2 separate regions of the Homo sapiens genome follow, and region 1 is linked to region 2. Evidence: fine-mapped expression QTL. A gene starts in region 2. The other region holds a variant in brackets. All regions are shown on one strand. Distances are from middle to middle.

Region 1 (5,230 bases), 25 kb before region 2:
GAGAACTAGGTAAGGACGTAACTCTTATTTTGGTCAGAACGATTAGAGGTAGGTGGGTTTAATTTTAAAATTAGTTTCAGCACCTACACATATTGTTCCCTTTGCCCATTCTGTCCCCCCAGCCCCTCCCTGCCCCCAGGTGGATTTTTTTTTTTTTTAATCACCACCTTACCCACTTCTCTCCAAGGTCAGGCCACAGCACTGCCATTGCCAATGCCTTGCTCTGTGCTCAAGGAATCAGCTTCCAGCTCTTCCCAGCAGCCAAGCCAAACTGGCAGATGGAGTTTCCAACTTGGGAGGCAGGTCCAGGGAGCAGCACAAGATTACGCAGGCCCTCAGAGAGCAACTGGGTAGACTGAAAAGCAAAATCTCATGCATGTGCGTAGCTCAAAGACAGAAAAGGCGGGGGAAGGCAGAAGGGAATGATTTGAGAGGAACGACCAATTAACTGTTAATAGAAGGTTTGGTTTAAAACAAAGTACTAGTCAAAGAAGGGCTGGCAAAGAGATATTACCCTCTTTGGTTTCAACCTTAATAACGTAAAGAAAAAGAACACATATTTAGAGGCATGAATATGACAAATTTTTTATTTCAAAAATCTCAAGTTGTAACCAGCATAGCACCACTGACATGGATGCCTTGATAGAACTCCTTGATAGAACTTTATGATCTGTTCACCAGAAAAGATTCTACATGATCACGCCAGACTATAATTAAGGCTAACCAATCAAAATTCAGGTACCCAAAACCAGTTATAATCCAGGTAGAAACTACAGATCATAGGAACCCTGGGACTGGTTTTCCAGGGAACCCTGGAATTATTTTTTAAGTGCTACAGCATGTACAAGGACACTGGCCCACAAGCTTGCTTCTCACACGTAGAAACTGACAGACTAAGAGGTAGATGAGAGATTCCAGGTTCCATCTAGCAGTGGAGAGGCAGGGCTCCAGCATGTATCAGAGATAAGCCCCAAAAGCAAAGTCCACTTATGCTTCAGCAGAGGTAAGCGGGCAGGCTCCTGGCACCACCTCCTCCAAATGGAAGGGAAGGAGGGCTGCACCGCTCTGCCTGTGTCACTGGCTCCTCTCCCTGGGTCCAGGCAGGGCCTCTCATTTTCTCCAGGCTAACCCACTGTGTCCCAAGGTTAATCTCACAAGACACTGGTCCCTACATCATGTAAAGGGTGGATGGGGAGCCTCCTAACACCATGTCAACATGACTGCTAACAAGGAGCCACACACACAACTGAATTTCACAGGACCTCATATCCTCCAATGGGCTCTTTCCCACATCTACTCGAAAGGAATCGTGGGTTTCCCTTTGGGCTTTTCTTCCTGGGAATCAGTCCATGGGAGATGCCAAGCGCCCCTGGAACATGAAATTATCCACACATGTGTAACTGCACACTCTAGATTAACAGGAGAGAAAACACGCTCATTTTTGTTTCCAGCTACACATACTTAGCTTTCTAAACACAAAAACTGAATAATTTATCTGATTTATGAATGATGGTTTGGTATGTCTAAGAAAGCTATATAAAACATAAAATGAACTCATGTTCATGCATGAATTAAACTGACTTCATGAGTTCTAGGGAGACGCATTAACCTGTGCTGTTCCCCTGGACGCACACTTGGCCTCATACAGGTGCCACTAACAGCCCTGATGGCAGTGTCAGAGGACAGCAAGGTGAGGCTGGGGAAGTGAGGCTGTAGGGCCCAGAGAGGCCCTAGTGCCTCCAACAGTCTCAGATGCTACTTGATTACTTCTATGCTATGGGCTGCTAACTCTTACATAGCCTAGAAAATATTTACCCATGAACACTACCATGTTTGGATTTCAAACAACTTTAAACATTTGGTATCAGATTGGGGGAGCAACAAATAATAAAATTTAGGGTCTGTACTGTTAAAAGTATAGTATATAACAGTAATAAAACCTGTGTGGGGCATTTTTGGTTAATCTGTCGTCGAAAACGGTAATCTAAACCTGGGAGAGTTGCTATATGGGGAGGGGAGAGTGAAGAAATGGAGAACAGGCTTGTCCTCGGGTAGGATGTGTCAGCCTAGACTGGCCCTCAACATCTGGACGGAGCAACAGGTAAATGTGCCATGGAAGACCCCACAAAACATGACTCCACATCAGCAGAACAAAGACAAACACAAGTCTTTTCTGACTTCCTAACATGGAACTGTAACATCTGTAATACAAGTTGGTTAAAATACTGCTCAAACAGCACATAGG[G/GAAAC]AAACAATACCTTGTCACTCTCTACAAGTACACACTCCATTTACAATTTGGTTTTTAAACCAGAAAAAACTGTTAAAACATCTATCCAACAGTGATGTATTCAAAAGTATATACATCTAATAGTCCAAGAGAATGCTCACTCTGGACCCAGTGTCAGCACCAAAGTGCAGTGTTTATGACTGCAAATCAGGTAAAAATAAAAAATACAGTACTTTGAGGCCTAGGACTAGCTCATGATACACTTTAAAGCATTTGTGGCAGACAGGTGTGTCCTCAAAGGCCTTCCTTTAAGACAGGCACCAAATCACCACTGGTTACACATAAGTGCATTTTGCATCACTATACAGGGATATAATACTCCCATCAGAAGGTATAGGAAATTTAAATGCTACACAGTTTTACAAAAATTGCTAAAAAATTTTTTTTGCACTTCAATTTTTAAATTTTTAAATGTGCCACTTTTAATATCAATTACAAACTACTTTCTGACTGCATTACTCAACCCCAAGGAAGCACCTGGTTTCAGGGATTGCATCCCTTTCCCAAGACGTGCACTTCACTCAGAAATGCAGCAGCACAAATACTACATGTTAGTTCTCCGGTTATTAGTTGCTAAACTGTTTAAGAGCCACTGGGCAGCTGGAAGCCTCGAACCCAAAGGCATTAACTGCTTACCAAAAGAAATTCAGTCTGACAACTGGCCTCAGCGTTGTCTTGTAAGGACAAACAGCTAGAGCAAAGTGCTGGGAAGATTGCTGCTCTGCCAGCGCAGGCAGGTAGTCTTTGAGTGCTTATACAGGTGGCTGGACTGACTAAACCTCTTGCCACACTTCAGGCAGGCGTAAGGCTTTTCACCTGTGTGAACACGGATGTGCTTCTTGCAATCTGTCAAAGTCAGAAAAGTTTTGCAGCAGATTTTGCAGGCATACTTGCGAGCTCCCTCTACAACCAAAACATTGTGCTCTGATAAGGCCTTCTTGCACTTTGACAGAACATCTGCAGATGCCCTGGTCAACTGTGGAGGGCCAGGCTGGGAAGGATGGCCATTTTCAAATGAGGACGTAGCTCCATTCATCATTAGCTGAGAACTGGTAGAGTTTTCTGGGATCTGTGAGCTCCTGACGGAAGTTACAACTGGCATTTTGGGAGCTATGCGGCGGTAGTAAGGAAAGTTACTGGCTCCTCCCCTTGGGGAACCTATCATTACCCTGGAGAAGGAGGAGTGGAGGCCCAAACCAGACCTGGAAAAGTCCATCCCAAACTGTTCTCCTCCTTGGTAGCCTGAAGTCTGCACACACGGCAGGCCCATCACCTCCTGCATAGGCCTGACGAAGTGGGAGTCTGCAGGTTCACTAAATGGGTTCTCTACATGGGAGCCAGGGGCAGAGGAGGGCCCACCTGCAGGCCCAGCCTCTGGACTCAACAAATAGGGGGCCTCACTCTCCAGCCTGCAGTCACTAGTGGTGTTTGGAATATTATCATCATTGTTCTGATTTGCAGTAAAGTTATTTCCTCTGCTCTTGTTAAGAAAATTCGAAATACTAAAAGTGGACTTATGCTCTAGGTTATTTGTGACTTCCAAAATATGGATATCACCTACCCTGTCTGTGCTAGACTGGGGATCTGAAAAACTCCGATCACTGCTTTCAGGGCTGAGGTCTATCTTCTCGGCACTGACCACAACTCCTTCCACTTCCACAGACTCGCTGCCTTCTGCTTGTGAGGTCACATCGCTCACTTCATCCTGAGGCTCAGGTGAGCTCAGGGGCTCAGATTTAACCACCACTCTCATGTGCTCCTTCTCACCAAGGCCAACCTCAGGGTTTTCACACTGAAAACTACTTTTCTCAGGTGCAGCTTCCTGATCAAAACTAGTCTCAACCTGAGTTGCACGAGAGGCCATGGACAACTGTGCCATGTTGCCAGCACTGTTATCAGACTGGCTGGGCACCTGGGCATCTTCTTGAGTGCCAAAAGACTGATCAAACATGATCGCACTATCTTCCTGGTTATCAGTCATTCCATCAGCTTTAGGATTATCCACAATTTTCAGAGAATCTGGTGAAAAGAACTCCTCCCGAGAATGAACCCCTGAAGGCCCATTCTCCGGTGTAACATCTGAAATGGCAGACTCATCTATGGAGGGTCGGAGGCGCTGCCTGGCCCGCTCCTCTGCAGACTGCTTGCGCTTATGAAGGCGTCTCATGGGGAAGGGCGTGCGCTGATCCAGGTTACTGCGCATGGAAGAGCTCATGGGGGCTGGCTGCTCCTCGCCATTCTGGCTGGAATTGAGGGCTGAGCTCACGATGCTTAGTCCCAGCTGCTGTAGCATAAAGGAGCGCTGCATGCGGGCGCTCTGCTCCTGAACGCGCTCACTGGGGGGAGACATGGGCAGCGTCCTTGTCGTTAAGTAATGTTTACATGCCTTAACAACAGAGTTCAAATGCAGGTGAGAGGCTGCCAATAAGACATCCATTACATTGCTCTCCCCCAGCATGAGGGTGGAGGTATACATCATGTCAATCAGTGCAGCAAAGGCCTCTGCTGTCACCACCTCGCTATCCAGCTGGATCATGTTCATGGTCTGATCTCCTTCTGCCACTGAGAACAGGGCTCGGAAATGCGTGCTGCATGCTGCCAGCACGGAGCGGTGGGCTTTAAAGTGTCTATTCCCCACTACAATGACACAATCACAGAGCTGGCCATGAAGTCTCTGGTAGTTCAGCTGCTGGAAGATTTGTTCAAAGTGACCAGGAAAATCCATGATCCTACAGAAAAACAAAGAAAGAAAATGTTAAGACCTAGAAAAGCTTCAAAGTCAGAACACAAAGGGTATGATGAAAAGAGTGGAATGGATGGCCAAGCTTGGACCTTTGAAGCCCGTGATATCTCTGATAATGGGCACATACACTAAGAGCTTGTCATATAAGAAGCAAATGGCAATTCAGCCATCAGCCCAGGAGGCATGCACACATGTGGGCCTAG
Region 2 (5,230 bases):
AGACAGGGGCACATCCCCAGTGAAACCCCACCTCCAAGCCGAAGACAGTTTAAAAGCTTGAAAGCCAAGCTACAAGTCAAATCCACGGACCAGATTGAGAACCTGTGTTCCCATTTGGCATGCTTTCCTCTGACTGATCCCCACCCTTCACCTATTTTACATATATCTACCCCTTTCCTAATTGGTTTTCTACACTGTCGTGCCCACCTTTGAGTGGTGTCTTTGCTTTAACCGTTTTTTTTTTTTTTTTGAGACAGGGTCTCACTCTGTCTCCAAGACTCCAAGTGTGCAGTGGCATGCTCTCAGCTCAATGCAACTTCTGCCTCCCAGGCTCAAGCGATTCTTCCGCCTCGGCCTCCTGAGTAGCTGGGATTACAGGCGCACGTCACCATGCCGGGTTAATTTTTGTATTTTTAGTAGAGACAGGGTTTCACCATGTTGGCCAGATTGGTCTTGAACTCCTGAGCTCAGGCAATCTGCCCGCCTCAGCCTCCCCAATTGCAGTAATTACAGGCGTGAGCCACCACACCCGGCCTTCCCTTTAAACTTTTTGCATCAGAAACCAATCAGCACACACTCCCCATTCTGAGTCCCTAAGAAGCCCCGGAACCAGCCACACTGGGAAAGAGACCACCCCCTGCATGCCCTCTTCTCTGAGAGCTGTTCCATCACTCAATAAAATTCTTCTCTGCCCTCCTCACCCTTCGAATTGTCAGAGTAACCTAATCTGTTTGGGATGTCAAGATAAATCAAAGCTTTTAGGAAATACATGTATAACTAATAAAATGAAAGGCACCTCTAAAACTGGATCTTGAAATTAAAAGCTACTATTCAGTGGTGAAAATGATGAGAACATATGCAAAGAGCAATAGTTCACTCAGAAACAGCTGGTCTTTTAGGAGATGAGAAGTTCACTTCATACTTAGACAAAAGGCATAGTGTAGTGCTACATTCCATCCCACCTGCTACACTAACAAAACTGGCTCTACTAGACAACATCCATATTTGAGAAATATTACGTACAGTAAAAGAAAAATCACACGCTTAAAACTGACAGAGGGGGAAAGTATTTAAAATTAATTTACATTAAAAAAAAAGTTGAAAGCTAACATAGAATCAATACCTTGGGTTCTTTTTTCCATTTCCAAAACGAATGTGAGCCAGATTCAAGATTCTCTGTCAGCACTACACCAGGTTTTGTCAATTTCACTGAACACAAGATATTTTAAAGTCTCCAATTCGATATAATTCATGCTGAGTTCTTTAAGTACTATTTGATATCCCAGTGATTTTTTATTACTTCCACTTTGGGGACAGTCTTGTGAGTCTCTTTTGAGAGCGTTCGCTCCTAAGTCTGTAAGATGCCTTTCCTCCAAATCTTACCATTTTCAGAATTCTGCTAGAGACATATCAATTAACCAAAATCCAGCTTGCCAGCATCCTCAGCTAACTAAAAGTTATGTTTTGACACAACTTTTAGGGAAAAGGGGCAAATCTCTAGTAAACGAGTTGACTTCAGGACTCTTCAAAAAAAGAGTCTGTTTATTCAGCAAAACCCAAGGGCCCAAAACAGGTCCCCACCCAAGTAGTCTTACCTGTAAGGTCACCAAGCTGGCTGTGGTGGCCAGGTCAATCTTCCCAAATTTGATGAGATTTCCATAAGGGTTAAAAGGAAGAGTGAACGGTTTCCTTTGGCTTAGGGGCTTTTCTCTAAAATTCCTTGTCTTCTTCCCATCTGGACTTTTCCCTCTGAACTATTAGCTTACTGCCAACCACCGTCCCCACAGAAATCACAAGAGTTTAGGCAAATGAAAAGCAAGTTCTGCCCAGCCTTTTACATCTAAGCACAACAGCCCATACTAGGACAACAAATTACCAATGACTTAATGACTAAGGCACAGCATTCTCTTCAACCTCTAAAGAAAAGCCCGTAATGTCCTCTACTTAATACAAGTGAAAAATATGAGAACATGTTTTGGAATATTTTTGCTTCAATTTTTGAAGGTGAAGAGTTCCTTCTATTAATTCAAGTTAACTAGAGTCAGAAGATACTACTTAGTAATCAACTTTACTGTGCTTTCACCTAAAATTTTTCCTCCAAATTATTTAGGATTTGCCTTCTGTTCAGAAAATTAGTTTCCACAATATCCTTCACTATGCCAGAATGCTGACTGACTTAAAAAAAAATGACCATTATGAAAGGAAAAAACTAACCTTCAACACCCCTTAATTCACTGCCTTTTATTATTTACATACAAATCTGTCCTCCAAACAGGAGAAGATGGGACGGCAGTGTCTTACCACCGCATCCCCCACAGCTCCTCGCACGAAGCCTGGGAGTAGTGGGCATTCAATAAATGCCTATTAAACACTTCAGTCCTCTCATAACAAGTTGGGGCATTCCGAAACACTGGCTCCACCCCTCCAGGGTCGGCCGCTGGCTCCCGATGGCAGTCTGCCTATGGCCTTGCTCTGGTGAAATGAAACCTCGTCGCTCAAGACCCAGGATGGGGGCAAGGGAGCCGTCCGACCACATCCCGCAGGGCAGCAGATCCTCTCTTCATCCCGCCAGGCCGCTGGTCCTGAGGCCTTTCCCACCCCATTCGGGAACCTACGTCGCCAGCCGGGGATCCACAGGAGTACCAGCCCCCGCCCCACCCCGCAGACAGCCTGGCGTCGGGACACCGGGGACGCCTGCGCAGAAGAACCCGCCTGGCCCCTTGGCTCCAACGGTAACAATGCTCCCCTCCGAAAGACAGCCAGAGTAGTCCGGGGGCACCAGTACACGTCTGCGCGCTCCCCGACGCCTTGGCGCGCCCCTGGTGCTCAACCTTCCCCACGTGAGCGCGCCCGCCATCACGATACTCGCTGACGGGGTCTCCTCACCTGAGTCGGGCTCCGCCCCCCTCCTCCTCGCTGAAGGAGGCGGTGACCCCTCTCCGATCGGACTCGGCAGTGTCAGAGGAGGTGGGAACGTCCTGACCAGCGTCTCCGTTACGGGACTTCCTCCCCCTTCCACCCGCCCCCCTCCCACCCCGCCTCTAGTCCCCTAGCTCCTCCAGCCAGTTCGCCGCAGCACTCTGAGAACACGGCGGCGGCGCCCGAGGATAAGCGGAAGTGACGTAATGCAAGAGCGCCTACTCCGCCCCATTCCGCCTCTCCCAGTTGGGCTGCAACCAATCAGCAATGGGAAGGGCGGGGCCGGGGTAGGAGTGCAGCCAGCCGGCGCGCGGAACCTGGAGGAATTTACTTAGCCCCCGGAAAAACTGACCAATCCACGGTCCCTGAAGTCTGGTTGTGTTTACTACCGACTGAATCCGTGAGCTCTCTGACCAATCACCCTTTGCCTTACAACATGTAAAACGGTTATCAAATGCCTTTTAGGGCGGGATTTATCACTAAACTGCTCCAGGTTTGGACTATAGAAATGCGGCTGTTCGCTGCAACCAATCAAAACCCTCTGTGGTTTAGGCTAGCGGGCTTTCCGCCTAAATCCGCCAATCACAACAACGACTGCGTGATGTCTGAGGGCGCCGGAGAGGCGGGCCCTCAGGGCAGGCCGTACCGCCATTGGCTGGTTCTGAAGGATTTTTCCACCCTCGTGGTGCCCGGCGCTTTAGTGACCCAGGGCTCTTCTCCGGGGTGAATTCCCTTCGCTGAACACACACACACACACACACGTAGAGGGCTGGAGATTGAGTTCCCACTTCATAGACGTTGGGAAAGATAAGATTCCAAAAAGCTCTTTAGGTTTAACTAAGCCAAAGTCCAGGGTGAAAACCGCGAATAAAAAACGCTGTCCATCGGATGGCAGTTAGGTCGGACCCCGCCCCTCGTCCAGTCCGGGTGGCTGCGCGTCTGGAAACGGTGGCGCCCCAGGAGCCCGGCGCTTGGCCCCGCACTCGGCTGCAGGTCAAATAAGCCTGTAGTCTGCATGCCCAGATTTATAATCACCTGCACTCCCCCCACAAAAAAATAGGAAGCGCTAAGCTCTCCCACTCCTGTCCCAAACGTGGAAGGGTCGCGGACTTGTATGGGACGCGGTCTGAAAAAAGCGAGCCCCGGGGCGACGCTCGGGTTTCCAGGTGCACCCTCGGAGGGAGAACCCGATCCCTGAGCATCGGACACTGGGGCCAGGGAAGAAACCCCCTTTCCTAGGGTGAGGACGGCAGAAGAAAGCTGCCTTCTCCGGCGCAGCGTGTCTGGGAGCGCTGCGTGGCTCTGGAGACAAAGGCAGGCCCGCGAACTCAGCTGGGTTCTTCTGGGGGTGGGGGTAAGGGTCTTGGAGGAGCTCCCAGAAAAATGGAACTCCCAGCCGGGCGCGATGGCTCACGCCTATAATCGCAGCAATTGGGAAGGCTGAGGCGGGCAGATCGCCCGAGATCAGGAGTTCGAGACCAGCCTGGCCAACATGGTGAAACCCTGTCTCTACTAAAAGTACAAAAATTAGCCGGGCGTGGTGGTGGGCGCCCGTAATCCCAGGCAACTACTCGGGAGGCTGAGGCAGGAGAATCGCTTGAACCCGGGAGGCGGAGGTTGCAGTGAGCTGAGATCGTGCCGCTGCACTCCAGCCTAGGCAACAGAGTGAGATTTCGTCTGGGGGGAAAAAAAAGGAACTCCCCGCTTTAAGAATGGAACACACCGAATACCCCTACAGCAGATTCCATCCCTTCAGTTACTGGTCGGAAGTGTTGATTTCAAAAAGCAACCTGTTTGCGTGGATTTCTTTAAGGGCTCGGTGGAGTCTGATGTTTAATTCTTTTCCTTAAGATTCGCTGACACTATAGCCATCACACATATTTTACTGACAGATTGATCGGTAAAATAAGGAAAATATGGAATGATGACAGTAAGCCAGGCAATAGGAGAGATTCTTTTGCGTATCTGTCTCTCAACGGTAAATGCCATGACCTAGATTGCCTCAGATTTACAGGCTGGCAAAAGTTTTAAAAATTGTATATTCAGAATTTAGGAGTGTGTGGAAGTGGACACCCGCTATATTGTGGACGGGGGTGTCACTGATGCCCTGTTTGACGATCACTTCGTAGTATCTATCAAAATTTAAAATATGCATTTGTTCCCTTCTAGATGGTAATTCCTTTCTAGAAATATATGCTACCGAAATACAAAGATGTGGAATAATAAACCCAAGGCTGTTTACCACACCTTTGTAAGTACAAGGGGCGGGGGGGGGGGGGTAAGTGGACAACAAACCTAAATGTGTAACTAA

The links. PIP is the estimated chance that this variant, and not a neighbour inherited with it, causes the effect.
Region 1: its variant is the best candidate, but not a certain one, in a credible set for the expression of ZBTB5 in esophagus mucosa (GTEx, PIP 0.83).

The regions. Positions count from the first base shown.
Region 1 is chr9:37,437,543-37,442,772 of GRCh38, forward strand. It overlaps ZBTB5 (zinc finger and BTB domain containing 5), which reads right to left. Exons shown (of 2, transcript NM_014872.3): 2 at 560-5,013. The coding sequence starts at 5,009. The coding sequence ends at 2,976. It also overlaps a transcript of GRHPR not described here. Among named protein-coding and RNA genes, the nearest start is that of GRHPR, 17 kb to the left of the region's middle. The variant G/GAAAC (reference allele first, on the strand shown) is at 2,246.
Region 2 is chr9:37,462,329-37,467,558 of GRCh38, forward strand. It overlaps ZBTB5 (zinc finger and BTB domain containing 5), which reads right to left and starts at 3,122. Exons shown (of 2, transcript NM_014872.3): 1 at 2,887-3,122. RefSeq lists enhancers at 2,044-2,729, 2,730-3,415, 3,416-4,101, 4,102-4,787 and a silencer at 2,950-3,049.